6 separate regions of the Homo sapiens genome follow, and all the other regions are linked to region 1. Evidence: fine-mapped expression QTL. A gene starts in region 1. Each other region holds a variant in brackets. All regions are shown on one strand. Distances are between the middles of the regions. Region 1 holds the start of CCDC18-AS1 (CCDC18 antisense RNA 1). Region 2 overlaps FNBP1L (formin binding protein 1 like). Region 3 overlaps CCDC18 (coiled-coil domain containing 18). Region 4 overlaps CCDC18 (coiled-coil domain containing 18). Region 5 overlaps CCDC18 (coiled-coil domain containing 18). Region 6 has its middle 49 kb from the start of FNBP1L.

Evidence for each region. PIP is the estimated chance that this variant, and not a neighbour inherited with it, causes the effect. A credible set is the group of variants that fine-mapping cannot tell apart.
Region 2: its variant is the best candidate, but not a certain one, in a credible set for the expression of CCDC18-AS1 in visceral fat (GTEx, PIP 0.57).
Region 3: its variant is the best candidate, but not a certain one, in a credible set for the expression of CCDC18-AS1 in cerebellum (GTEx, PIP 0.85).
Region 4: its variant is the best candidate, but not a certain one, in a credible set for the expression of CCDC18-AS1 in whole blood (TOPMed, PIP 0.61).
Region 5: its variant is the best candidate, but not a certain one, in a credible set for the expression of CCDC18-AS1 in whole blood (TOPMed, PIP 0.55).
Region 6: its variant is the best candidate, but not a certain one, in a credible set for the expression of CCDC18-AS1 in prostate (GTEx, PIP 0.85).

Annotation. Positions count from the first base shown.
Region 1 is chr1:93,343,245-93,348,198 of GRCh38, forward strand. CCDC18-AS1 (CCDC18 antisense RNA 1) reads right to left here and starts at 2,567. Exons shown (of 9, transcript NR_034089.1): 1 at 2,480-2,567. It overlaps DR1 (down-regulator of transcription 1), which reads left to right and starts at 2,663. Exons shown (of 3, transcript NM_001938.3): 1 at 2,663-3,621. The coding sequence starts at 3,402. RefSeq lists enhancers at 2,258-2,793, 3,163-3,232, 3,293-3,502.
Region 2 is chr1:93,454,223-93,459,176 of GRCh38, forward strand. The region is part of intron 1 of FNBP1L (formin binding protein 1 like); the gene reads left to right. Among named protein-coding and RNA genes, the nearest start is that of FNBP1L, 8.6 kb to the left of the region's middle. RefSeq lists enhancers at 468-987, 988-1,506. The variant T/C (reference allele first, on the strand shown) is at 2,166.
Region 3 is chr1:93,232,599-93,237,552 of GRCh38, forward strand. It overlaps CCDC18 (coiled-coil domain containing 18), which reads left to right. Exons shown (of 29, transcript NM_001378204.1): 19 at 3,650-3,792. Among named protein-coding and RNA genes, the nearest start is that of CCDC18, 54 kb to the left of the region's middle. The variant C/CTTGTTTTGTT (reference allele first, on the strand shown) is at 2,185.
Region 4 is chr1:93,201,427-93,206,380 of GRCh38, forward strand. CCDC18 (coiled-coil domain containing 18) reads left to right here. Exons shown (of 29, transcript NM_001378204.1): 7 at 466-562; 8 at 4,084-4,205. Among named protein-coding and RNA genes, the nearest start is that of CCDC18, 23 kb to the left of the region's middle. The variant A/C (reference allele first, on the strand shown) is at 2,365.
Region 5 is chr1:93,208,957-93,213,910 of GRCh38, forward strand. It overlaps CCDC18 (coiled-coil domain containing 18), which reads left to right. Exons shown (of 29, transcript NM_001378204.1): 10 at 1,846-1,970; 11 at 3,145-3,305. Among named protein-coding and RNA genes, the nearest start is that of CCDC18, 31 kb to the left of the region's middle. The variant C/T (reference allele first, on the strand shown) is at 2,116.
Region 6 is chr1:93,396,316-93,401,269 of GRCh38, forward strand. No RefSeq gene overlaps it. Among named protein-coding and RNA genes, the nearest start is that of FNBP1L, 49 kb to the right of the region's middle. The variant G/A (reference allele first, on the strand shown) is at 2,438.

The DNA of each region.
Region 1 (4,954 bases):
TACATGTAGTGTACTATAAATAACTATTTAAATATGGGCTACAGATTAGCATATTTTATGACATATCACACTGGTATTTATATCCAATTAAATTTCTCTCAGCCACGTATGTAATAAACTAGTTACATGGTTCATTACTAGTTGAAGACTGACCAAGCCTGATAAAGATGATAAAAGACACTAACATTATATAACACTTCATACTATAAAAAGTACTTTCACACAACTCTCATTTGATTTTGAATCCTGTGTGTTACATAATATTTCTATATCTGAACTGAAGAAAATGAGGCTTGGAGAGTGACTTGTCTAAGTAAAAAAAAAAGCTGGGACTGGAACCTACAACTCTTACTACACATTCAATTCTGTTTATGCTACCACAGAAGCCTGTAGCAATAAACTATTACTGAAATAATGTGTGCTCTACTCGTCTATTTAGCATAAGTCTATAAACATAAATGTTACATGAAAAAGCAAAGTTATAGTTTTTTCAGGAGAGACAAGATAAGGGTCAGTGACACTGTGACAACTTGGGACATTTTTTGCCAGCCAGCTTTTTCAGACGGATAAACTTGTTAAGGTCAAGATAAATTTAGGCACCATAATAAATCTTTAAATCAACAGTAAACTGACAAAAAAAAACAAACCCACCACTTCATAAAGTATTTTTTTTTTTTTGAGATAGAGTCGTGCTCTGTCTCCCAGGCTGGAGTGTAGTGGTACGATCTTGGCTCACTACAAGTTTTGCCTCCAGAGTTCAAGCGATTCTCCTGTCTCAGCCTCCCAAGTAACTGGGATTACAGGTGCCCACCACCACACCCAGCTAATTTTTGTATTTTTAGAAGAGGTGAGGTTTCACCATGTTGGCCAGGCTGGTCTCGAACTCCTGAGCTTAAGTGATCCGCCCCCCTTGGCCTCTCAAAAGTGCTGGTATTACAAGCATGAGCCACCATGCCCAGCCTGAAGAAAATTTAATTAAAATACTGTTTTTAATCAAAGAAATTTTGTTTTGACTAAATTTAGTAGCACTGAAAAACAAGTGTCTACACTTCAGAAATTAAAGAACCAGTAAGTTGTCCTGCAGAAAATGCTAAATGAAAAAATAGCATAATAAACTGTAATGTCTTCTTGAGAGCAGCATATAGGGCTCAGACAGAACGTTTTAAGAAAACACTGTCAACAAGCCAGTTGCCATCATATGTATCAAGAGTAATGAATCTGATGAACCAAAGTGACAAAATGGATTTCAACAGTGTCTTGTTTAGTTTTTAGAAATTCCAACATCCCACTATTTATAGTATAGCCTCTTCTTCCACATGACAGTATGACAGACTCAGTTTTTTTACTTTTTTTTTTTTTTTATCTTTTTTGAGACAAAGAATCTTGTTCTGTCACCCAGGCTGGAAGTGCAGTGGCACAACCGCAACTCACTGCAGCCTTGACCCCCTGGCTCAATCGATCCTCCCACCTCGCCCTCCAGAGTAGCCGGGACTACGGGTGCCTGCCACCAAGCCTGGTGAAAAAAAAACCCGTGTTTCATATTGTCATATAGAAGAGGCTATACTATAAACAGTGGGATGTTGGAATATATATTTATATATATAAATATATATTATATATATATATATATATATTTTTTTTTTTTGTAGGGACGGGTCTCACTATGTTGCCCAGGCGGGTCTTGAACTCCTGGGCTCATGTGATCCCCCTGCCTCAGCCTCCCAAAGTGTTGGGTTTACAGGTATGATGAGCCACAACGCCTGGCTGACACACTTTTTTTTTTTTTAAATGCAATTTCTGTTTAGACCTTGACACCTGTTGATATTACTAGTCACTATGGAAAGAAGTAAAAACAGTTGCTTAAGATGCTCTAACACTTTTTTCCCCTGTAGAAGCCAACATGGAATACAACATGAAAACTGTCTAAATGGGAACCTTCTAATATAGCTCATTGTATGCCATGCATTTCCACTCCATTTCCACTATGTTGGAACTGACTTCTGCTTTCCTACTTAGCCATTAGGCGACTTAGTTGCCTCTAGGCAAGTAACTTCTCTGAAATGTTTCATTTTTCATGAAGTTTAAAAAAAAAAAGGTGAAGGACTTTAGAGAGCTTTGAACCGAATAAGGTCTATCAGACATCTTGAAAAGCTTTTTCTCCAGACGACGCAGAAACAGGCACACGGGGTTCTGCTTTCCCCACCTCCCACCCCCAAGCCCAGGTCCCATTCTTCTCACTTTCAATCCTCATTTGGGCTCCTAAAGGAATAGCAAAGAGAGTTATTTTATCAATACCAGCGCTCCTCTGTCCCCAAATCCAGCTAGGGAAGGTTTCGGAGGCCTCAGCTACTTGAGAGAGGGTAGAGACGATCCTTCCTCGCCTATCTACCCAGCCACCCACCCCTTCCCAGATGTAGCGTCCGGGCCCCAGACCAAGCGCGTGCTTGGAGCTCTCCGGTACAGTGAGGCGCGCGCTTGCCTGGCTAGGGTCCCTGTGAAGGAATGGGATCCCGAGGTGCTTGCCAGGACCGTAGCAGGCGGAAGCTGCTGGCAGCGCGAACGGGCGGCTCCCGCCGGCGTGGGTGGGGGAAGGGCGGCAGCCACACCCGGAAGTCGGTCCGGGAGGGAGGGGGAAATCTGAGGGAACGAGGCTTCCGGTGGCGCAAAGGGTGTCGGGAGCGGCTTCCTGCAAACCTTCCCTGGCATCTGGAGGGACCACCGTTGCCGCGTCTTCGGCTTCCACGATCTGCGTTCGGGCTACGCGGCCACGGCGGCAGCCACTGCGACTCCCACTGTGCCTGGCTCTGTCCATATTAGTTCCCAGGCGGCCGTCGCCGTTCCAGCAGCGGCAGCGGCAGCGGCAGCGGCGGACATGTTGTGAGGCGGCGGCGCGGGTGTCTGAAGGATGGTTTGGCCGAGGCGGCGGCAACGGCTGCTGGCGGCGGCGGCAGCGGCAGCGGGGCCTCGGGCTCTATAGAGCCGAGCCCGCTGGGTACCCGCCCGGTACCGCGGCGAGGCCAGTGCCCCTGGATCTTGCCTCTGCTCCGACGCCGTTGGGGACCAGTTAGGCGACAGCGCCCGCCCCTCTGAGGAGACACGAAGGTGGTTCCCCAGCCGCTCAAATTTCCGGACCACCGCGCTTTCCCCTCCTCAGCCTGGGCTGTGCTCTCTCTAGAATCCTCGGGCCCCCACTTTCTTCCCAAACTCATCCTAAATCTCTCACACACGCGAGTGTTCCCAGCCCTCAAGCCAGCTGCTCCTCCGTTCATTTTCTGCACCCTCTTCGCAAAGCACCCCCCGGGATCACTCTCCGAGGGCGACTTTTTGAGAAATCTCGGTGGAGTAGTGGACCAGAGCTGGGGAGTTTTTAAAAGCCGGGGCGCGAGAAACAGGAAGGTACTATGGCTTCCTCGTCTGGCAACGATGATGATCTCACTATCCCCAGAGCTGCTATCAATAAAATGATCAAAGAGACTCTTCCTAATGTCCGGGTGGCCAACGATGCTCGAGAGCTGGTGGTGAACTGCTGCACTGAATTCATTCACCTTATATCTTCTGAAGCCAATGAGATTTGTAACAAATCGGAAAAGAAGACCATCTCACCAGAGCATGTCATACAAGGTAAGTCGTGTGTGAGAGCTGGTTTGAATGAGGTTCTAGGGTAGCAGTCTGCTAATCGCGTGACCCTTTCGTGTCAAAGCCTCCATTCCTCTTCCCTGGTAAGTAACTTAATGAAAAAGCCAGACTGGCATGTAGGCAGCCGGTGCTTTAAAAACAATCCCTTTGTAGCATTTTTGCAGTACTTTTCATCCAGCGAATACATGTAAGGAGTGCAAACATTTAGGTCAGCGTCCCCAAAACGTAAAGAATAAGAGTGATCTCACTTTACAGCCAGGTAAGCCGAAGCAACAAGAATTACTTGCCTGAAGTTGAACTTAGATAATAATTAAGGAACGCAGAAATTCTCCTTTGGAAAGTTAAAATTCAGACGGAGGAACTTCAACGTGGGTGGAGACAGAGCACCCCCTTCCCCACCTGACCTTTCACCAATGTAGAGGAAAAGATTTATTTTCTGAACACATGAGTTAAAAAATTCTTAACATACAATGTGTTCAACGTTGTCAAGTTTATCGTTGTTAAATAAAAGGTGTATGTTTTCTGCTCTAAAAATGGTTTGATGGTACGTTCATGAATGAGTTACCAAATAACTCCTGTTCCATTCTGTAAGAATAGGGTGAACTTTAAATTTTCGTTTTTTTCTTTTCGTTTGCTTTTATGTCGTTTGCTTTGTTCTATTCTGTGGAGATAAGTTTTGAAATCTTTGATTGAAAGTTTATGCAAGTTTTTTTTTTAACGGAAAATTTCCCCGTCCTTTCCTGCTGTCATTCCTATTTGAATGTATACACTTAGGCTTTTATGGAACAGCACTTCTGAAAACTTCAACAGTTTCTTTTATCCTGGAAAGGATTTGGTCCCGTAATAGGGATTTGGGGGACTGTATTCTGGTGGTTTCAGAGAGGAGAAACATATTTACTATTCATAATGTTTCGGGAACGTACCTTTTGCGATATTTTTACATGTACTCTTGTGAAAGAGTTGTACTCAATTTGAGGTGAGAACTTGCCTTTTGTAATAATCTAATTAAAGTTATTGATTGCTTGTGAAATCAGGGAAAAATGATTAATTTTAATCATTTTGATAGGCAGGTGGTTGTCTATCACTTAATTTTTATAATTTAACTTTTTAAAATGTGACTTTCCTGTTGTACTGAAGTAGAGAACACATCTGCTTATATTGACCATATCCAATATTTTACTCTCAGTATTGACAAAAGGATTAAATGATTCATTTTTAATCCTTTATGACGTCTTGAAAGTAGTTTTAAAATATATCCTGCCATTTCAGTACACAAGCAGAAAAATCCCTAGGAAAAAGCATATTTGATTCTTAAAAC
Region 2 (4,954 bases), 110 kb after region 1:
GTGCACAATGTCTGAAAGTAGTGATGAAGGGTAGACTGGAACCAGGCAGGCAAAGAGGTTGGTCTGGCTGATTGCTTGATTCATGAACCTCTTGTGTGTGTGTATGGGTGTGTCTGTGTGTGTGTGTGTGTGTGTAGTTACACATTTGTATATAATCAAACCACTTTTCAGACCATTTAAAAATTCACAGAAGAAAATCTTAGTTTATTGGTAGAAGGGATTACCTCTTGCTTCTGAATACTTTGGTGGCAGGAGGGGAATACCTCTGGGTTTTAGAAGATGAAAGTGTATTTATTTTAGCGCCGCTGCAAGAATATTTGAAGGATGTTATTTCCTTTAATAATATGTTACTAATTTGAAATTAGTTTTATTTTTAAATATATATTATTACTACAGCTCGTTTATATTGTTTTTTATTTTCCCTTTATCTGTGACTGTATACTGTAGGCCCTCCATATCATTTGATTTCCACGTCTGTGGATTCAACCAACCATGGACTGGAAATACTAATTAAAACAATCATACAACAATAAAAATAATACAGATCTAAAAACAATACAGCATAACAACTATTTACACATATCATTTACATTGTATTAGGTATAAGCAGTCTAGAGATGACTTAAAATATATGGGACGATGTGTGTAGGTTATGTGGGTTATGTGCATATACTGTGCTGTTTTATTTTTATTTATTTATTTATTTATTTATTTATTTATTTTTGAGACGGAGTCTCGCTCTGTCGCCCAGGCTGGAGTGCAGTGGTGTGATCTTGGCTCACTGCAAGCTCTGCCTCATGGGTTCATGCCATTCTCCTGCCTCAGCCTTCCGAGTAGCAGAGACTATAGGCGCCCACCACCACGCCTGGCTAATTTTTTGTATTTTTAGTAGAGACGGGATTTCCCCATGTTATCCAGGATGGTCTCGATCTCCTGACCTCGTGGTCCACCCGCCTCGGCCTCCCAGAGTGCTGGGATTAGCGGCGTGAGCCACCCCACCTGGCCTGTTTATTTTGCTGGAGTGCAGTGGCACAGTCATAGCTCACCGCAGCCTCAAACTCCTGGGCTCAAGCGATCCTCCTGCGTCAACCTCTCAAGTAGCTAGGACTCCAGGCATGTGCCACCATACCTAGCTAATGTATCTTTTGTAGAGACAAGGTCTCGCTGTATTGCTCAGTCTGGTCGTGAACTCCTGGCCTCAAGTGACTTTCCTCCCTCAGCCTCCCAAAGTACTGGGATTACAGGCATGAGCCACTGTGCCTGGCTCTATGCCACATGCCATTTTATAAGGGACTTGAGCATCCATGGCGAATACCAATGCTGGTGGACAACTATATTTTTACTTCTATATCAGTTTAAATATCAGTGCTTTTTCTGGAGGTGAGAGGGTGTTCACTGGGAAAAATGCAGTTAGTTTAGATCCCCACTCTTCTGCTTTAATTCCTAGTTTCATGAGCTGATTTATGTACTAAGAGTATTCTAATAAGAAAATATTTTAGAATATTTGAAATATCACCTTCTAATTGATGACAATGATAAATGCTTTAAAACTGCAAATTGTGCTTTAAAAATAATAAAAGTAATCTGTTAGTGTTACAGATAATTTTAATATTGTCATCTGTGCCTTTCGGCATTTTCCTTTTTTTCCCAAAATAAGTTGTATTAACTTCTATGATTGGTTTTACAGAATTTTCATTGACTAGTTCTTTGAAACCTCTTTTATACTATAGGGGGATGCCGTCGGGCATTGTGAGATGTTATCTACCTGGGCATGGGGGTACACCCCTCTAGTCTCAACTATTTGGGAGGTTGAGGCAGGAAGATCGCTTGAGCCCAGGAATGAGTCCAGCCTGGGCAATATAATGAGACACTATCTCCAAGGAAAAATAATGTCTGACTGCTTTTTGTAATGTGGGAGTCAGCATTTAGAATCTGTATGGAGCCCAAGAAAAAAAATCTCTAATAACAAGGATAAAAGTTTATGTAAAGTGTCCATGTTGAATCCAAATTAGTTATTCATGTTTGGCAATTGGGGCATTTTTTCCTTAAGTTCTTGATAAATAACTAATCAGCAGACTTTACAAATATCTCATGAAAGACGGGAAATACTAGTATTTGTATACTTGTTATAGTTTGAAAAGAATCAGTGTATAGAGTGAGATTTT[T/C]CTATTTTTGGTACATCATAATTTTGTTGTTTTTAGGGAGTAAAGGATATCTGTTTTGTTTTTGCTGTGTCCTTGCTGCACACCCAATTTATAGAAAAGGAGCCAGGTGCAGCTGCTCATGCTTGTAATTCCAGCACTTTGGGAGACCAGGGTGGGTGGAGCTCTTGAACCCAGAGAAACCAGCCTGGGCAAGATGGTGAAACCCCTTCTCTACCAAAAAAAAAAAAAAAAAAAAAGCAAAAATAAGCTGGGCGTGGTGGTGGGCACCTGTAGTCCCAGCTACTCAGGAGGCTGAGGCGGGAGGATCACCTGAGCCCAGGAGTCGAGGCTGCAGTGAGCTGGTATCTGCCTCTGCACTTTAGCTTGGGTGATAGAGCAAGACCCTGTCTCAAAAAAAAAAAAAATCGTTGCTTTTGGGGGAGTATTTACAGGGGATGACAAGCCACTGAATCCCTCTATTGATTCAACAAATTTGAGTGCTTAATATATGCCAATTGCTTTTCTTTCTTATCTTTTTTGAGACAGGGTCTCACTTCCATAGCCCAGGCTGGAGTGCAGTGGTGCCATCACAGCTTACTGCAGCCTCGACCTACCTGGCTCAGGTGATCCTCCATCCTCAGCCTCCTGAGTAGCAGGACTACAGGTGCTTGCCACCACACCCAGCTAATATTTGTATTTTTTGTAGAGATAGCGTTTAGCCATATTGCCCAGGCTGGGATCTTCTGGGCTCAAGTGATCCATCTGCCTCAGCCTCCCAAAGCACTGGGGATTACAAGTGTGAGCCACTGCGTCTGACCTCCAACCACTATTCTGAATTGTATCACCATTGATTACTTTTGTAGGTTTTAAAATTTCATATAAATGATACCGTATGGTAAGTACTCTTTTGCACCTTCTTCCTTTTTAACATCTGTTTTCTTCCATTTTGCATCTTCTTCCTTGGTATCTGTGAGACTCATCCTTCCGTGGTTAGTTGCAATGTTCTATTTTATGTATAGAATTTGTGTTTTCTTCTGCCATTTGCTTGGGGTCATTACTGGTCTGGGACTACCTTAAACTAGTTTTAAAATGTGCAGTTCCCTTGTGTGGTTGTTGGATTTTGATTTTTTTCCCCTGTATCTCTTGCTAGACTAGCAAAACAGTGATTCTAATTTTTCAAGATTGGCAAACATCCTCAGGGCAAGAGTAGCTTATGTGCTCTTTTACCTTTCTGGATTCTCCTTTTTACTTCACGTTTCTTGGCTTATCTTTGATGATTTAAAAATTTTGATATATATTTTATCCAGATTTTTTATTAAGTTAAATAGTGATAGTTGACCCAGATAACTTAGCCCACCATTACTGGAAACAGGAATTTATTTTTTATTTTATTTTATTTATTTTTTATTTCATTTATTATTATTATTATTATTAATTTTTTTTGAGATGGAGTCACACTCTGTTGCTCAGGCTGGAGTGCAGTGGCACGATCTTGGCTCACTGCAAGCTCTGCCTCCTGGGTTCACACCATTCTCCTGCCTCAGCCTCCCGAGTAGCTGGGACTACAGGCGCCCGCCACCACGCCTGGCTAATTTTTTGAGTTTTTAGTAGAGACAGGGTTTCACCGTGCTAACCAGGATGGTCTCGACCTCCTGACCTCATGATCTGCCGCCTCAGCCTCCCAGAGTGCTGGGATTACAGGCGTGAGCCACGACGCCCGGCCGGAAACAGGAATTTCTTATATTAAGTTTTTAATTTTTGCTATTTTGATTTCTAAGAGCTGTGTTTTTTTGGTTTTGTTTTCTGAATGTAATTTTAAAATAGCATCTTCTACTAGTATCTTGGAGCAATATCTTCTCTTAGTTCTTTTTATAGATCAAAGACAGGTTTTTGAGGAGGAAAACTGGATATCCACATGCAGAAGAATGAATTTTTTGTTTTTAGATAGAGATGGGGTCTTACTGTGTTGCCCATGCTGGTCTTGAACTTCTAGGCCCAAGTGATCCTCCTGCCCCAGCCTCTCAAAGTGTTGGGATTACAGGCATGAGCTACCGTGCCCAGCCCAGAAGAATGAAACTAGACCTTCATGTCACACCATATACAAAAATCAACTTAAAATGGCTTAAAGACTTAAACATAGGACCTGAAACTGTAAAAATACTAGAAGAAAATATAGTTCCATGACATTGATCTGGGCAGAGATTTTTTAGTTATGACTCCAAAAACACAGGCAACAAAAGCAAAATGGACAAGAGGGATTACATCAAGCTAAAAAGCTTCTACACAACAAAGGAAGCAGTCAACAGAGTGAAAAGACAGCCCATGGAATGGAAGAATATTACAGTAATCCACCCTTCAGTTTTGCTTTTTGTGGTCAACTGTGGTCTGAAAATATTAAATGGAAATTTTCAGAAATAAACATTCACATAACTTTTATTACTATTTATTGTTCTAATTGTTCTCTTTTATTATTAGTATTGTTGTTAATCTCTTACTGTGCTTAATTTATAAATTGAACTTTATGGCAAGTATAGAAGTATAGGAAAAACAGTATAGACCCATATAGACTTTGGTACTACACGAGGTTTTAGGCATCCACTGGGAGTTTTACAGTATATCCTCTGTGGGCTGAGCATGGTGGCTCACGCCTGTAATCCCAGCACTTTGGGAGGCCAAGGTGGGTGGATCCCTTGAGGCCAGAGATATGAGACCAGCCTAGGCAACATGACAAAACACCGTCTCCACTAAAAATACAGAAATTAGCCAGGTGTGGTGGCATGCACCTGTAATCCCAGCTACTCCAAGAATTG
Region 3 (4,954 bases), 110 kb before region 1:
TATTATTAGCCCAAGATTGTTTTATTTGTATGAAATAGAAATTTTTAAAATCATGAATAGATTTTTCGTTAGTTTTTTAAATTGCTGTTTGGCCAGATGCCGTGGCTCGTGCCCATAATTCCAGCACTTTGGGAGGCTGAGGCAGGCGGATCACCTGAGGTCAGGAGTTCGAGACGAGCCTGGCCAACATGGCCAAACCTCGTCTCTACTAAAAATACAAAACTTAGCCAGGCATTGTGGCACATGCCTGTAACCCCAGCTACTGAGGAGGCTGAGACACAAGAATTGCTTGAACCCAAGAGGTGGAGGTTGCAGTGAGCTGCAATCGTGCCCTTGCACTCCAGCCTGGGCGACAGAGTGAGACTCCGCCTAAAAAAAAAAAAATTGCTGTTAAACCTCAAGGATTTTGCATTATAAGAAATACTCTATACTGATATTGTAAAATAAAGTTCTATTCCTATGTAATCTGACCTCCATCTCTTATACCATGATTATATGTTTGCTGTTCCATACAATTTATAATTCATGTTTCTTTATTCAATCTCTCTTCTTGTACCTAATCTGAATACCTATAATTTTTCCTTTTTGGATCAGGACATGGTATGTGATATTCCTTAAAGAAATGGCAAAGCAGTGCACTAAAAGAAAAATCCCAAGGGAAAATACCCCTGAAAGTTCTAAAATTAAAAATTATTACTTACTTGAATGTAAGAATTCTAGAGAATTTTATACTAGAATCTAATCTTTTTCCTTTAATTCATTACTGAATTTATCTGAATTCTTTAGATATTTTACATTCTTATTTTGTTTTTTCTTTGAAAAGAAATCAAATTTACAGTAATGTGTAAATTAGAAAATGATCGTCCCCTGTAATCTTACTGTATTTTCCTTTTTTGTCATTTTTTCGGTCTTTTATCTACTTGTTCTGAAGTCCTCCTCAGCCTGTCCAGTGGAACTAAAGTATCTTCCTCTCACTACATTTAAACACATCAGGCAGGTATTCTGTATTTTTTTTTTGAGACGGAGTTTCACTCTTGTCACCCAGGCTGGAGTGCAATGGCGCGATCTCAGCTCACTGCAACCTCCGCCTCCCGGGTTCAAGCGATTCTCCCACCTCAGCGACCTGAGTAGCTGGGATTACAGGCATGTGCCACCACACCCAGCTAATTTTGTATTTTTAGTAGAGACAGGGTTTCTCCATGTTGGTCAGGCTCGTCTCAAACTCCCTTCTCTGGTGATCCACCCACTTGGGCCTCCCAAAGTGCTGGGATTACAGGCGTGAGCCACTGCTCCTGGCCTCTATTTTTTTTCAAGAGACATCTTCCTGTGACTCTCCATCCCTTTTGTTAAAATTTAGACCTACTGCTTGCTATGCCTACTATACAGCTTCATCCTGAAGCATTTCTTCTTCTCATCTATGTTTGATTCCCACTGCCTACATCCTTTGTCATTGACTCTGGTTCTTGCAGGATTGATTATGATTCTTGTTCCTAACTCACTTCTATAATGGTTGTATGGTTTTTTCTGTTTTGTTTTGTTTTTTTTTAACAAGTTCACTTTTTTTTCTTTTTTTTCTCTTTTTGAGACGTAGTCTCACTGTGTCGCCAGGCTGGAGTGCAGTGGTGCGATCTTGGCTCACTGCAACCTCTGTCTCCCAGGTTCAAGTGATTCTCCTGCCTCAGCCTCCCGAGTAGCTGGGACTACAGGTGCGCACCACCACATCCAGCTAATTTTTGTTTTTTTAGTAGAGGCGGGGTTTCACCATGTTGGCCAGGATGGTCTTGATCTCTTGATCTTGTGATTCGCCCACCTCAGCCTCCCAAAGTGCTGGGATTACAGGCGTGAGCCACTGCGCCTGGCCTCATTTGTATTTTTTATTTGGTGATTTTCTTTGTGATCTTGTTTTAAAAGATTTTGTGTTCTCATTAGCTTCACTGAGGTCTACAGAAGTTTATATCTAAAAATTTCTTCAGTATTTGGAGTAAATTTTTGACTTGGTATTCCTTTTCTGCCTTTCATTCATATTACACTGTGCATAGGTTCCATTTTGCATCTTCAGATTTCTCTATTTAATTAAGAATTGAGTAGGTGGATTTTCCTTGGTTCCTTTCCCTTTTTACCTGGGTACTGTTTTAATTTTCTTCTTGAAACTTGAGGTGGAGGGGTGGATATTAATGGGGTTTT[C/CTTGTTTTGTT]TTGTTTTGTTTTGTTTTGAGACCGGGTCTTACTTTGTCACCCAGGCTGGAGTGCAGTGACATGATCATGGCTCAGTGCAGCCTCAACTTCCCTGGGCTCAGGTGATTTTCCCACTTCTGCCTTCCAAGTGCATACCACCATGCCCAGCTAAGAGTGTGTGTGTGTGTGTGTGTGTGTGTGTGTGTGTGTGGCTTTTCTTTTTTTTTCTTTTTTTTTTTTTTGGTAGAGACAGAGTTTCACCATGTTGCCCAGGCTGGTCTCGAACTCTTGGGCTTAAGAAATCCACCCTCCTTGGCCTCCCAAAGTGCTGGGATTATAGGTGTGAACCACCGCACCTGGCAAGATATTAATGGTTTATGATCTATATTTAGTTCTTCAGTGAGGGATTTTAGAAGAACGGGGGATATGCAGGTCAGAGTTGAGAGGTTAACTTTGAGACCACAGTCATATAAATATTCATGAAGACATGGAGTGACTGAAATTACCTAGGGAGAGAATATAGAATGAGAAGCAAGAAGATTGACTTGGACAGATCCCTGAGGGATGTGATACATGGAAGCCAAAGTAAGTATTTCATTAAGGAAGGAATGAATGTTGCTGTCATGGGCTACTGGAATCAGTGTCAAGTAAAATGAAGGTTGGGAAATGTCCATTGGAATTAGCAACTTGGAAGTCACTGGTGTTGTAATCCCTGTTTCTGTGGAATGGCCTCTGGCTATGGGTTGAAGAATGAGAAGTGAGACAGTGATACAACATGCATAGAAAACTTTGAGAAGTTGGGCTATATATGGGAGGAAATAAAGGGTAGTAGGTAGAGGGAGGTCAAGGTCTGAAGAAAAGCTTTTTACAGTGGGAAAGTCTTTTAACATGTTTAAATGCTAATATTAAAAAAACAGTAGAGAGACTGAAGATATTGGAAAGAGGAGATAGTAGTATGAAGTTCCTGAAAAAATGAATAGGAATTGAATCCACAACACCTATGAAGCAGTTTGATTTATATAAAGGAGGAAGAATACCTCCTTTATTGTAGTAGAATAGAGGAAGAATGAATAGGAACAGATTCAAGTTAAGATGGGAGCAAATGCAAATTAGCATTTGAGGTCATGTGGAAATCTAGGAATCTATTGAGTGAGCCAATTCGTGAAGAAAAGAAAGGAGCAGTATGGTAAGAGAAGAAAGGGCATTTCAAATGGGGACAATGAAAAGGGGAATATTTACTATCATTTTGTTCAATTATTTTAACACTTTAGTGTTATGATGTGGCCACTTCCCTAAATAGTAATATGTATGTGAAGTATCTTTATTATTAGAAAGTAAGCCTTGCTTTTTATATTTTCCAAACATTACTTCTTGGTCTATATGTTGATTTTTATGATACATCTTGAAACTGATAAGCTAGGTTACATATTTATAAAAGTATTTTTCTTCTGAATTTAAAATGTTTACTGAAAACTGCTTTACAAGGTGTCAAAACTGGAACAAGAACTTCAAAAACAAAGGGAAAGTTCAGCTGAAAAGTTGAGAAAAATGGAGGAGAAATGTGAATCAGCTGCACATGAAGCAGATTTGAAAAGGCAAAAAGTGATTGAGCTTACTGGCACTGCCAGGTAAAATGTGAATATGTTTTATTTACCTTCCCACTTCAATATCAGTGGTATCTGAGTTTTGAAATCAGATAATGTTCAGTGGAGCATTTGCTTGAGGAATTAATGTCTCCATAGTCTGTGTTCCTATTGCATTTTGTTTGTATTTCCTTCATATCTCTCATTATGCTTTTTACTGTATTACAGTTTAATGCTTTTAACCTTCCTACTATAAGTTTCTTAAGGCAAGGATCATACCTGGTTTATTTTAGGGTCTTACACAACAACTGGCACAGTTCCTTATACCTCATAGGCACTCAGCAACTGTTAATTGTGAATAACATTAAAAGTTGTAGGCAAAAATGTAAATGTACTCACATAGAGGAAACTTTCAGGCAATCCAATTATATAGGGGAAGAATGACAATATAAAAGTGGTTCTCAGCCTTGAGTGAATATTAAAATCACCTCAAGAGCTTGTAAAAAAACATACTGATGACTGGGTCCCACTTTTAGATTAAATAAAACCTAAAGATTCTGATTTAATTTGGCTAGGCTGGTCCCAGGCATCGATACTTAATTGGTCAAGAAAGGAACCCATGAGCTGAAAGCAGTACCCAGCCTCTTCAGATCTCTTCTACTTTGTTGGGAAGAATTGACATAATTTATAACATAATCAGCCCACCCTTCTACCAACAGGAGTCAAGAGTGAACTTAGGCACTGGCACTAAAACCACATGTCCCCAGGTTCCCTCTCCTCCATTGACAGGGGTCCTTTGTGCTCAGAGGAGCAACTTGCTTCCTCAGATGTCTGTCACCCTCTCAGCAGGGTTGAGGGCTTCCCAAGTTTAAGACTAAGACCAAAGTATTTCACACCTTCTTTCTTCCATTGACAGATGTTCTACTCACTAACATGGCCTCACCACTGGTGTCCACCTTGAGTCTGTGAAGACTGACTGCATTATCACTTTATCCTTGTTTATGCCAGATACCACAAGAAACCCTAGATTTCCAGGTCAGCTCTCATATCTCACACTAATTCCCAAAAAACTCTCCACACATTCTGTTTCTTTCTCCAACCCCATCCCAACTTCTGAAAGACTTCTACTGTGCCTTTTGAACTTCATAATCCATTCTCTGTATTCACTACTTTTTCTTTTCTCTTGCTGTAATAGAAACCTGGCCCT
Region 4 (4,954 bases), 140 kb before region 1:
ATCTGGTATCAATAGAAGTTACCATTTTTTGAAATAACTATTTGAAATTTATTTGACCTTTGCAAAGGTCACAGAATTTACTGAGTATATTTAATATTCTAGACAATAGACTGATTCTGTAATACCTAACCTTTGAAAATGTATCATCCAGCCTCAGGCTATTTCCCTAATCTGTCTTTTCCAGATAGGGAAAAAAAAAATTGCCAACACATAAGAATTTATATATATTTCGACATTTATGTTTATTATTGTTTTGTGTTTTATTTTTCATATTGATAGAGTGAGAAAATTTTTGTAGTATGATCTACATTCTTCATTTTATACTTTAAGCCTAATACTCCTTTTTAGTGCAGAGAAATTTGTTTCTCTCCAATTATTCCTTATAATTAAAGATTACTTTGGAACTTAACTCTTCAAATGCAGAGCATTCTTCACTTTTATTCATTATCTCTTTTTAAATTTTAGAGCTGAACGACAAAGGAATGAAGCACTATATAATGCCGAAGAGCTGAGTAAAGCTTTCCAACAATATAAAAAAAAAGTGGCTGAAAAACTGGAAAAGGTAAAAGGCAGTTGTGCAAATTCAGTGTTTTGTATTACTGTCTATATTCCAACAGTAAAGGTAGGAATAATTAAAATATGTTTATGGTTGAGACAGAGAGTAATTTTTATGATCTTACAAAATCATTTAAATAAACAATTTGTAAATGTTAGTTAAGGATGATGTTCACCAACCCTTTTATTATCAGGAGAAACTTTTTTATCCAAAGAGGGAAAAGAGTAGAGAGAGGAGAAGGAACAAAATACAGAGAAGGATGGAATGTGTTAACAGAGACTGGAGCTAAAGAAGTAGAAAAAAGAAATTCATTTTTATCACTTCAATGAAAATGAAGATAGATTATGTAGCTTTCAACTGGTCTCCCTCAGTCTGCTACTCTGAGAGGGGCTTGCTTCTGCCTCTCGGAAGGTTCCTTGAACTGATTTGATATAGAAATAATAGTGAGTTTATTACATTCATTTATTATATTCATTTATTATCTTTAAGTAATATCACATGGTAATGAAATGTGTATGGAGGAACACCACAGTTGGATATTCAGATATTGAGCTCAAAAGAGAGGTCTGGTAAAGAGATACTAATATGGGAGACTTCCATCTTGAGATAGCAATGAAAGCAGAGGAAGTTTATGATTCTGATCCAAGAAAGGTAGAAAGGCAGAGGAAGGAATGTTCAGGTAGAAGGGTAGAGTAAGAAGATGGGTGTTCATTTATTAAACAATCATGAAATTCCTTTTACATGCCAGGTACTGTGCTAGTCTCTGGGAGATTCGGTGATACATAACACATGATACCTATCCTAAAGAGCTCACTGTCTAGTAAGATTGACAAGTATGTAAACAAATAATTTCAGTATTTTGGAATAAGTATAATATAGAAATAAGAGGTAGGTGTGGTAGGGTGGGTGAAGGTGGCAGTGGTTAATAAACTCTGGTGGGCCCAAAGAAGGCTTCACAGAGTAGGCAATGCTTGAGCTGCTAGGCTATCTCAAAGATTGTGATATATCTTTGAACAGTGTTAACCAGGGAAAATGATCAAAATCTATGTTCTAGGAAGCTCACCCTGATGTCATGTGAAGATGCATTTGAGAGGTGAGAGACAAGTCAAGGAGACTTTAAAAGACAAGGCAAGAGATATTGAAGATGAAGGAGCTGAGTAGGTAGCTATGAGGGATGTTAAAGTTGGGGAATCAGTGGGATCTAGTGACCACTTGAATGCATTAGAAGCGGGCAGTATGAGAAAGAAGAATATAGGATATTTTTAGGTTGCTGGTTTGAGTGACTGCTGGATGATTGCATCATGAATCAAAATAGACAGTTTAAGAAAAAAAGTTAATGAGTTCTATTTTGGAAATGTCTGTAGAATATCCAGTTATAGGTAGGCTTTTGTATCTATAGGTCTGGATTTAGACATACAAATCTGTACTAGGGCTGTAGTTTTGAGAATTAACAGTACTGAATTAAAGTGGTAGAAGCCTTGGACATTGACAGAGTTCATATAGAATGAGAACAAGATGAAAGATACCCTGGGAGATAAAGAACAGGTAGATTAGCTTTTGAAAGATATCGAGAAGTGATTTAAAAAAATTAGAGAATCAGGAAAGTATAATAAGAAAAGCCAAGGTGATAGAACATTTTAAAAAGAAGGTGGTGATCTTCAGTGCCAGATGTTGCAAATTGGTCAAGAAGAATGAGGACTGAACCAGGTGTGGTGGCTTATGCCTGTAATTCCAGCTACTCAGCAGGCTGAGGTAGAAGGATTGCTTGAACTCAGGAGTTAGAGGCTGCATTAAGCCATGATAATGCC[A/C]CTGCACTCAGGCCTGAGTGAAAGAGCAAGACCCTGTCTGTAAAAAATCAGAAAAAAAAAATTTAGAAAGATGAGGAACAAGACAGGGCTATTGGTTTTTATAATCAGGGAGTCATTGGATACTTTGTAGAGAGCAACTTATTAAAGTAGAAGGCACAACCTCTGAAATGGGAGAAATGGAAAGGGAGGGGGTAGAGGTAGCTAACAGACAATTCTTTACATACGGTAGGTGAAGAGGAAATAAGTGTGTGTGGTGGGTTGGGAGAGGCAGCGAATGGAAGGGTAGAAAGAAGCTAAGTTAAGGTGAAGAAGCTGTGGTAAAGCACCTAAGGGTATCCTGAACATATTAGTAGGGGGAGATTGAAGATGCTAGAATTATAAGGAATAAAAGATGGCACAAGGGTCTGAATGATATGCAAGATGATAGTCCAAGAGCAGAAGTGAGATTCTTTTTTTTAATGAAATAGGACATTTCTTTATGGGAAAAAAGTGGATAAAAACAGAAAAAAGTTTTAGGTGGAAGGAAATTGAACGATTTTGAATTAAATGTCTTTGGTCTCATAAATTAAGATGTTGCTTAAGTGATTTTCATAGCGTAAGGAGGATAGGAGGGATTTTGGAAACTTGGGGTGAGTATTTCTCATAATATATTTGCAATAAGGAAAGCCAAGAAATTTGCTAAACTTTTGAGAGAATATATGGAAAGAAAAGAGCAGTCAGGAATGATGAGTTAATAAAAGGAAGCAAGGAAAACAAGAGTGGCCAGAGTCAAGTGTAATATTATCATGACAGCTACATGATAAAATATTTTAGAGGAGAAGTTACCAACAATATTAAATACTGAGATCAAGGAGAAAGTCTGCAGTTGATTACAAAGTGGTCATTCCTTTGCAGTAAAACTGTGAGTATCACTTGGCAGTGTAAAATATTAAGGTCTCACTAGGTACTGAAATCTTTTTTTTTTAAATTTTATTATTATTATACTTTAAGTTTTAGGGTACTGAAATCTTAAGTGTGAATTAGTTAATCAGAACGCTGTTTTGAGAGCTAAAGAGGGTCCTTGTGGGAATGAAATATCTTAGAAGGGATTTTTAATAAGGTGATCAGTAAGGGGAGGTAGAAGACCTAGTAGGAGGAATATGCTTGGGGAGAAGAAGGACTTTATGGAGAAGGAGAGAAGAATGTAAGAGACAGGTTTTGTTTTTTTACACTTAGGATTATCAATTGCAAACAATGCTCAGCAAAGCCCTATAGTTAGGTGGATGTAACAGGGTAACAAAGGAATTGGGGCAGATCTACCCAATCTTCTCCTCTCAACAGTGTATCTTGGGTGCTTTTTTCTGTTCTACATTTTGGGCTGTGGTTTCGTTGGTAAATTTTGTGGTTCAAATTTCAAAAGTAACTTCTCTGGAATATTTGCACTGAAATTAACCTTTAGTAACTCGGACGCAGCAGCTGTAGATGAATTTTTGACTTCAGTTGATGCAATTGCCTATCTGTTACAGGTTTTCTGGACAGGTAGTAGTGTCTTTTTCTCTGTCCTTTGCTACTGCCCAGGAACTTCACTTTGCTTCTTTTCACTACAAGGCTGGGGACTTAAATGTATGAAATTCTTAGTCTACTCTCCTGCTTATTTCTGAAATCACTACTGACATTTTTAGCTTGAAACACCTAAAACTTACAACCACATTAGTATGTCCACTTAAATTATTGTTTTAGGTTCAAGCTGAAGAAGAAATATTAGAGAGAAATCTAACTAACTGTGAAAAAGAAAATAAAAGGCTACAAGAAAGGTGTGGTCTATATAAAAGTGAACTTGAAATTCTGAAAGAGAAATTAAGGTACAGTATTCTGTTGTAGAAAAAGGATTTTTGTGTGGACATGGAAAAAACTGAAACACTTTAAAACACAATATTTTATTGTTGTAATTATAGGCTTACATTATATAGAAGGATAGGCTTCATGACTGAAACTGTTTTCTAGCTATAGAGTTAGAATTAGAAGTGAAGTAAAATGTGTTAATGCTAATAATATTTGTAAATACGGAGACATACTGATCAACATATTTGCTTTGCATATATTTAGAGAAAATTAATAGATATAATGTCCTTGATGTATAACCACATTAACTCACTAGTAAAATGTGTATAATATCCGATGTTCTAAAAAAAAGTGTTTTTCAAATCATAAAAAATTACCTAGTCCAGACTTCTCATTTTATAAGTAAACAGAAGCCCCGAGAGTAGCCAGAATTTACTGAAGGTCTGAAAGATCGAAGTCTTCTGACTCCAATGCTCTCTTTTAGTACATCATGTTGTCCTCTCAAAACTAACACCCATCAACTTTCAGAGGTTAATATTAACCAGTCTTTATCACTTCAAACTGTTAATTTAAAAAAAAGGGGGAGCAGGAAGCAATCAATGACTGATTTGTCTAATTTTGCCATACTTTCCTTAAGGTAGTCTGTTTAGTATTTTTGCCAAGGAGGAGGAAGTAAAGATACTTTTTACTAGAGTATTTTTTAGAATCGGTTATCGATTGCAAGATATACTTTTAAGAAAGAAAGATGCTGCCAATTACACTATGATGC
Region 5 (4,954 bases), 130 kb before region 1:
CCCGGCCTTTTATTTTTTTGAAACGAAGTTTCACTCTTGTTGCCCAGGCTGGAGTGCAATGGCGAGATCTTGGCGCACTGCAACCTCAGCCTCCTGGGTTCAAGCGATTCTCCTGCCTCAGCCTCCTGAGTAGCTGGGATTACAGGCATGTGCCACCATGCCCAGCTAATTTTGTATTTTTAGTAGAGACAGGGTTTCTCCATGTTGGTCAGGCTGGTCTCGAACTCCCAACCTCAGGTGATCTGCCTGCCTTAGCCTCCCGAAATGCTGGGATTACAGGCATGAGCCACCACGCCTGGCCTAAAATGTTTTTATAATAATGGTCTACCACCTTTTCTCTTTTAGTAATATTTGTGACCATATATATAAATGAGATTAAGAAGAAGGTAAGTAAACCTATTCAGGAATTTGTAATCAATAGGTGTAAAATGAAGGAAAGATCAGGGGAAACTATAGGTAAATATATTATGGTTGGTTTCAGATATGAATGTATGGTAGACTAGATGGTAGACTTACCAATGTTAAACTGTTATGAACTGTGGAATTATGAACCAAAAAAATCTCAGAAATCATCTGATTCAATACTATTTTATTGGTGAAGAAACCTAGACCCAAGAAAGTAAATAACTTGCCCAACTGGTAAGTAGTAGAATTTAAACTAGAACATAAGATCTTAGCTCCTCTGATATCTGCTTTCCCAGGATGCTGTTTATTTGCTTGGATTTTTAATGTACTGTTTGCTTTTGAAATTAGAAAGTAATCATATACAGATAACAATTTTAATTTGGCATTCTCATTTGTGTATCAAGAATTATTTCATATATGGTCAGGCACAGTGGCTCCTGCTTGTAATCCCAGCATTTTGGCAGGCCAAGGTGAGAGGAACTCTTGAAGCAAGAGTTCAAGACCAGCTTGGGTAATACAGTGAGACCCTGTCTCTACAAAAATGCAAAAATTAGCTGGGCATGGTGGCGCATGCCTGTGGTCCTAGCTACTCGAGAAGCTGAGGTAGGAGGATTGCTTGAGTCCAAGAGTTCGAGGCTGCAGTGAGCTCTATGATCATAAGCTCCAGTCTGGGTGACAGAGTGAGACCCTGTCTCTCAAAAAAGAATCATTTGAGATATGATTCCGAATGTGGTAATGTATGCTTGATCGTTTGTTTCTTGTAGTGCTAAGAATGACACGATTAGAAAATGTGATTTTTTTCTACTTCTAGGAGGTGTGATTCGGTTATAGTTTGAAGGTAGAAGTCATTAAATGCTAACCTTGCTCCTTTTTATAACTGTCTTTTAAAATTCTGTATTATCCAAACATACAGAAAGGTGCATATGCTAGTGTAGCACCTTATTTGTAAAATTTGGGACACATATTGTCTTATCAACTCTATGTTTTTTTAGAATAAAATTTTACAGGTAAATCTTCTTTGTGTACCTTGTCAGATCCCAATTATCTTCCTCTCTCCTCAGAAATGGCAATTATTCTGAAATTCATGTGTATCCTTCTCGTCCATGTTTTAAATATTGTCACATATCGATGCATCTAGAAATATATATATGTTGCTTAGTGTTTTTATGAAAATACTGTTTGCCACTATAATTTGTTTTTCACTCAATATTGTTATGAGATGTATCCATACTGATTTATGTGACTCAGGTTTATTTCTTTTAACTATTGTAGTTTTCCAATTATCTTAATATTTCTTAATGTATTTATATATTCTCCTATTGATGGACATTAAGTTGTTTCCATTAAATTCATACAGTTTTTAAAATTTGAAGTTCTGAATAAAAAAGCAAATGCATCTCATTTACATAAGTTTACATATGTTTGTTTTTAAACTTGCAGTTAAAAAGAGAATTATTTGGCTTTAAATCATATCTTTCTAAATACCAGATGAGTAGCTTCTCAAACAAGGAAGACCGTTGCATTGGCTGCTGTGAGGCAAATAAATTGGTGATTTCGGAATTGAGGTACAATTTTCAGATTCTGCAGTTATAGCAAATAGAATGTTTTTTATTGGTAATTAAGACCCTTAATTGGCCGGGCATGGTGGCTCATGCCTGTAATCCCAACACTTTGGGAGGCTGAGGCAGGCGGATCACGAGGTCAGGAGTT[C/T]GAGACCAGCCTGACCAACATGGTGAAACCTCGTCTCTACTAAAAATACAAAAATTAGCCAGGCATGGTGGTGGCACGCGCCTGTAATCCCCACTACTTGGGAGGCTGAGGCAGGAGAATCACTTGAACCCGGGAGGCGGTGGTTGCAGTGAGCTGAGATAGTGCCACTGCACTCCAGCCTGAGCAACAGAGTGAGACTCCATTAAAAAAAAAAAAAAAAGACCCTTAATTGAGGAATTTAAAAAATATACAGAAAAGCTCAGAGAATATTATAACAGGTATCTGTGATTCCACAACTAAGAATTGAATCTTCTTAACCAGGATTGATTCTCCTTAAAATTTGTGGTATTTGTTTTAAATCTGTTTCTCCAAATAAAAAATAAAACATTACAGGATGAATAATGCCCTTTGATCCTTATGACTAGTCCCATTTTTCCCCTAAGTATCCACCATCATGAATTGGATATATATTTCTCTATTCATTTTTGTATGTTTACACACATGTACACAAATATGTACCGTATACTGTGTGCAATTTTGCTTTTTCACTCAGCAGTATTTAAAAAATTCATTCATATTGAGATAGAGTAGATTAACAAATGGATTTGTGTAATTACTTTTAATAGCTGTATAGGATTCTGTCCTATAACAGTGTCATAATTTATTTGTTCCTTTATAGGTATCTTGTTTCTGTTTTCTGTTACAAACAGTGCTGCAAAGGACATCCTTGTACATGTTTTCTTATACATATATATGAGAGTTTCTGTAGTATATATTCCTAACAGTGAAATTGCTGGGTCATACAGTGTGTACATTTTCAATTTTACTAAATACCATCAAGTTTGTAAAGTGGCTGAACCAATTTATAATTCTACAGTGGTATATGGGAGTTTTCATATCCTGCCTAAAGAGTTGACTAATATTAGAATTCTAATTTTTTAAATCAACTTGAAAGGTGAAAAATAGTACAGTATGAGTTTTTTTATAGAATCTTTCTAATAATTTTTCCCTTCTTTTCTTTTGTGCCAGAATTAAGCTTGCAATAAAAGAGGCAGAAATTCAAAAGCTTCATGCAAACCTGACTGCAAATCAGTTATCTCAGAGTCTTATTACTTGTAATGACAGCCAAGAAAGTAGCAAATTAAGTAGTTTAGAAACAGAACCTGTAAAGCTAGGTGGTCATCAAGTAGGTAAGTATATTGAGTTATTTTAATAAATTATATTCAGAGTTTTGGATGATAGTTTTTTTTTAAAAAAACTTTTATTTAAATTTTTTTTTTAATTTAAGTTCAGGGATACATGTGCAGATTTGTTACATAGGTAAGCTTGTGTCATGGAGGTTTGTTTTACAGATTATTTCATCACCCAGGTATTAAGCCTAGTACCCCTTAATTATTTTTCCTGATCTACTCCCTCCTTCCACCCTCCACCCTCTGATAGACCCCAGTATGTGTTGTTCCCCTCTATGTTTCCATGTGTTCTCAGATGATAGTTTTTAAAGAACAAATTTATCAACTGTTTGGTTTCTATTATCAAACATACTTGATAATCTGTTACTAGTTGTGGTCTGATAAGACAGCAAAAGTTATTTCAGAATTATTAGACTTTGTATCATTCGTTAATGAAGTAAAATTGATATCCAATAGAACAGTGGTCCCCAACCTTTTTGGCACCAGGGACTGGTTTTGTGGAAGACATTTTTTCCATGGACCAGGGACAGGGTCAGGGTTGGTTTCAGGATGATTCAAACGCATGACATTTATTGTGCAATTTATTTATATTATTATCATATTGATGTTGAAATAATTATACAACTCATCGTAATGTAGAATCAGTGGTAGCCCTGACCTTGTTTTCCTGCAACTAGAAGGTTCCATCTGGGGGTCATGGCAGACAGTGACAGATCATCAGGCATTAGATTCTCATAAGGAGTGAGCAGTCTAGATCCTGCGCATGTGCAGTTCATAATAGGGTTTGTGTTCCTGTGGGAATCTAATGCTGCCGCTAATCTGACAGGAGGTAGAGCTCCAGCAGTAATGCGAGCGATTGGGAGTGGGTGTAACTACAGATGAAGCTTTGCTCATTCGCCTGCCACTCACCTCCTACTATGTGGCCCAGTTCCTAATGGGCCATGGACTGGTACCAGTCCGTGGCCCAGGGGTTGGGGACCCCTGCAGTTAAGATGCACCCATTTTAATATACAGTTTGATACGTTTTGTCAGGTGTTTGTGTTTTAATGTTTAACTCTTGTTACCATCACCACAGTCAAGACATAAGACATCTCCACCAGGATCCTTTGTACTTTTTCCCAGTTAACTTTTAGGCTTAATTTTCTCTCTTTTTTTTTTTTTCCAAAAAAACCACAAAACTTTTCTTAAAGTTTAGATTATTGATTTTAGACCTCTTTTCTTTTCTCATCTAAGTATTTAAGGATAGAAACTTCCCTTTAAGCGGTGCTTTGGGTGTATTCCACTACTTTTTTTAATGTGTTGTATTTTCATTTTCATTCAGTTCAAAATAGTTATCTCTTGTGATTTCCTCTTTGACTCATAGGCTGTGTGTGTTTTATTTCCAAATATTTGGAGGTTTTTCCAGATATTTTTGTGTCATTCATGATGATCAGAGAACATACTGTATAGGACTTCATTTTTAAGAATGTTTTGAGATTTGGTTTATTGTCCAGCGTATGATCTATCTTGGTGAATGTTCCAAGTTGAGAATACTAGTAATTAGAGGTGGTAATAAATATAATATGTTATAGATTCTTTTACATCAAGAACAGAGCCAATAAAAAGTAAATAGCCTAGAAAGTGAAATATTATAGATGTAGAGAATTTAT
Region 6 (4,954 bases), 53 kb after region 1:
TGTGAAAAGCAGACACAGCTGGAAGGCAGAGCACCTAGATCCTAGAAATTTATGACCCCATTTTCACACTGAATTCCAGTTTCTCAGAGTGGAGGCAAAAGTCCAAGAGAGAAAGGTCATGGAAACAGGTCGTGCAATCTTCTACAGTGTATCTCACTAGAAGGAAAGTTCCCCAAGGCTGGTGGGTGACTCAATAAAAGTCCCCCAAGGCTGGTAGGACTCCAGCCCACTCTGTGATCAGCCTATCCCCCATAGGAGTCTTATCCTTTGGTGGTGAGTGTTCCTACAGCCTCCAAGTTTCCAAAATGTACTTTTTAAAAAATCTAGCCATGCAAGCACTTTGGGAGCCCGAGGAGGGCGGATCACGAGATCAGGAGATGGAGACCATCCTGGCTAACACGGTGAAACCCCATCTCTACTAAAAATACAAAAAATTAGCTGGGCGTGGTGGCGGGCACCTGTAGTCCCAGCTGCTCGGGAGGCTGAGGCAGGAGAATGGAGTGAACCCAGGAGGCGGAACTTGCAGTGAGCCGAGATAGCGCCACTGCAGTCCGGCCTGGGCGAAAGAGCGAGATTCTGTCTCATTAAAAAAAAAAAAAAAAAAAAAAATCTAGCCATGCAAAAAATAAAAATAAAAAAAAGTAGCCTCTGTGTAATACCTATTCATTGCAACCACTGTCAGCCACCTCCAAAACTGCAGCCCTCACCAGTGACTGCAGCCACTGAATGTAGAGCCAGCCATTGCATACTCAAGGATCAGGTATTCTCTCACAGTACAAAGTAACTTCTGGTACCCTCAAAGCCAAAGCTGTCAGGGAGCTCAGTGCAAATGAGAGCAGAGCTTTAGACCTGAGAAGAACCTGCTCATGACTTTTGGTGCTTCATGAAGAAGACAGAAGACCCCAAAATGTGGTCAGAGGCACCTTTTTGGTCTTCCTTAAGGAGTGTCATAGTTGCTAGGGTTCCCCTCTAGATCTCTTCGTGTGGTATCAAAGGTGGTAAAGGAAGGAAGAATAAAAGTAAATGGGATAATAAGTCTCAGGGAAGCCAATTTGGGGAGATTTAAAACTTCTCAAAAAAAGTCAGTGAAGTTTTACCTTTTTCTAAGCAAAAAATTATACCAACAGGAAAGGAAGCAAACAGAGGGATGAAACATATTTTACACACTCACATATATATATACGCACACACATGTGTATGTATATGTACATAAACACACACGCACACATACAATTTTGAGACAGGGTCTCACTCTGTCACCCAGGCTGGAGTGCATTGGCACCATCATGGCTCACTGCAGCCTCGACCTCCCAGGCTCGAGTGACCCTCTCATCTCAGGCTCCCAAGTAGGTGGGACCACAGGTGCATGCCACCATACTCAGGTAATTTTTTTTTTTTTTTTGTAGACATGAGTTCTCCATATGTTGCCCAAGCTGGCCTTGAACTCCTGGGCTTAAATGATCTGTCTCAGCCTCCCAAAATGTTGGGATTACAGGCATAAGCCACCATGTCCAGCCCAAACATATAACTTTTTATAAAGAGTTTCAGTAAACTGAAAAAAATTCTCATGGGAGAAACAAGATCCAAAAGAGAAAAAGCAGAAAGGCCTTAAAAAAACTTTTAGTTTGAATATCAGTTTTTAATTAAGCTGGCTTCTGACCACATAAAGCTTTTTAAAAACAATCTTTTAAAATCTGTCAGAGTTTAGCCATGACAAACAGCCAATATTCTTGGTTTTGAACTTCTTTAAATCAAAGTTATCTTCCAAGTGACTCCAACCAAAACCTATAAGCCTTTTATGACTTAACCAAGGATGCATAAGGCATCTCCAAAAAGGTGCAAAGCAGTTCTCACAAGAACCAGAACTACCCCAAAGACAGCTCAAGGAAAAAAAATTTACTAGTTGCAAATGGGGTACAATATACATTTCTGACCAACCATGTTCTTTAGGGTCTTGGCTTATCAACTAACCATCTTCACATAAAGTCTCAGCAATTGCATGCCCCATAGAGGGAAGATTAAAATAGACAAACAATTAGTAAGACAGGAAACTAAAAGCTGTCCATGGAAGGGAACAAGAACAGTAATAAATGGGTACTCCAAAAGTCAAGAGTTACACACAAATATCAAACCTGTAATCACCCAATGAGTTCTTCCTGCCTGCTCTACAGACAGAATCAATTCATTTAGAGCATGGCATTGCAATAGAGAAAGAGTTTAATTGATGTAAGGTCAGCCATGTGGAAGAACTGGAGTTATCACTCAAATCAGTCTCCACGAAGGCTCAGGAGTTAGGGTTTTACACCTGAGAAGAACCTTCTCATGACTTTTGGTGCTTCATGAAGAAGACAGGAGACCCCAAAATGTGGTCAGAGGCACCTTTTTGGTCTTCCTTAAGGAGTGTCATAGTTGCTAAGAGTCCCCTCTAGATCTCTTC[G/A]TGTGGTATCAAAGGTGGCAAAAAAGGAAGGAAGAATAAAAGTAAATGGGATAACAAGTCTCCGGGAAGCCAACGTTTTGGACAATTTGGTGGACAGGGGGATAGGGAATGGGTGCTGCAGATTGGGTGGGGATGAAATCATAGGGGTATGGAAAATGGTCCACATGTGCCAACTCCACCTTGGATAGGGGCCACAGGACCAGTTGAGTTATGAGTCATGGGTCCAGATGGGGTCAGTTAGTTGCAAGACAGTCTGAAAAAAATCTCAAAACACCAATGTCAGGTTCTACAATAGTGATGTGATCTATAGGAGCAATTGGAGAGGTCACAAATCTTGTGACCTCTGGCCACTTGACTCCTGAGAAGTAAGGGATTATAGAAACTATATCTACATCTTATCAGCATTCAGACCCCACTCATAATCCTAACCTTATGGCCTTTCATTAGTTCTGCAAAGGTGGGTTAGCTTGGGGAAGGGGTTATTATCATCTTTGCTTTAAGATTAAACTATAAACTAAGTTCTTCCCAAAGTTAGCTTGGCCTACATCTAGGAATATAAGACTAGACTACAAGTTGAAATGTCTCCTTTTTAAATCCTGTGGGGAATCCAAAGCAGGCAGTTTTAGTGTACAAAGGATTTTAACTTTGTTTTAAATCTGATTTCTGCTTTTTTTTTTAAGGAGAATTTCTAAGGCTAGTCATGACACTAATATGTGTCTTTCTTTCAATTTGATCCTCCCACAAAAACAAATAAGGCAATTACTTAGAATGGAGTAAAATATTTTTCAGATATAGGAGTCTTTCTAGTCCAAAGGATCCATCTTCTGGCCACTAACGATTAGAATTTCCAACTATGTATTTATTTCAATAGCAACTCAATTCAATAAACCTCTTCATGGATAGACCAGCAGGTAATTTTCCAGGTTTGGAATAAGTTTTTACCACATAAGCAAGCGTATCCCTGGAGAGGGCATAGAACAGCTAATTCCCATGATTTCCCCAAATTCACTCCCAGAAATAGGCCAAAATAGCAAAAACCTCTTGTCACAGATGGTAAAGAATGGTGTTTGTGTGCACTGTTCCTTCATGTTCTGCAGGGAGCAAGTCTATGCAAATCTACCCCCAAAGTTTAAGGAAGCTGAGAGGCTGAAGAAACAGGCTGACAATCCAGTTTTTCAGGAAGAAAGATTTAATAGGGAATTAACAAAGAGAAGCCATCTCTGTGTCTTGTTTGATGGCAAGACAAGATAGTGGATCCCTGCACCATTTACCCTCCCAGGCCCAGGGTTTACATACCACAGGGGAGGAATGTGTAGGACAAGTGAAGTCAACACCCAGGGAAAGGCAAGAATGCTATGTGAATCTGCCAAAGGGCAGGATTTAAAGTCAAGGTTATTTGACCTAAGGGCAGAATTTACAGTAACAGTAAAGTAGAAATCTTAGAGGTATTCTCAGAACAGGGAATCAGAAGTCAACATTGTGGATAAGCATTCAAAATGGAATTGCTTTAGCCTCTACACTTCAATAACCCACAAATTTATAGGGGACTACCAGTCACAGATCCTTTAATTGGTGACAACAGGTAGGTTCTCTTTGGATTAGACTTTCCCAGAACTAACGAGGCAACAAAAGTCCCTTATGGTTAAGACTTCTTATGAAGACAAACTTCCCTGGCCGAGTGTGGTGGCTCACACCTATAATCCCAACACTTTGGGAAGCAAGGCAAGAGGATCCCTTGAGGCCAGGAGTTCGTGATCAGCTTGGGCAACATCTCCCACTCCCCTAAACAAAAAAAAGAGAGAGAAATTAGCCAGGCATGGTGGTACACACCTGTAGTCCCAGCCACTGGGCTGAGGCAAGAGGATCCCTTGAGCCCAGGAGTTTGAGGATGCAGCGAGCTATTTTGCACCACTGCACTCCAGCCTGGGTGAGAGAGTGAGACCCTGTCTCTTAAAAAAAAAAAAAAGAGACAAACTCCCCTGAGAGCTTGGCACATTCTGAACAAAGAGTGTGCTGCTTGATAGCTTATGTGTCTTGGGGTTCCCAGTCCTTTCAGAACGTAAACCAAAAATAAAATTCAAAGGCCTCCCTTCAACCATCTGAATGGACTGCCTCCTTGGCCAGGACACTCTAAAATTTAACCTGAAAGACTGGTTGGGGCCATGACTGACAGGAAGGGTGGGAGGGGTTGGACATACCTTATTATACCTCTCCAGCATTAACATCAACACAGACCTTAAGTCTGATAAGAAACATTTACAATCTATTTTCTCTGAAGCCTGCTACCAATTGCCAATTGCCAATCAGAATATGCTTAAATCTACCTATGACCTGGAAGCCCCTGCTTTGAGTTGTCCCATCCTTCCAGATCAAGCCAAAGTAAATCTTACATGTATTGATTAATGTCTTGTGCCGTATGGTTTGGCTTTGTCCCTACCCAAAATCTCATCTTGAATTGTAATCCCCATACTCCCTATGTGTCAAGGGCAGGACCAGGCAGAGGTAATTAGATCATGG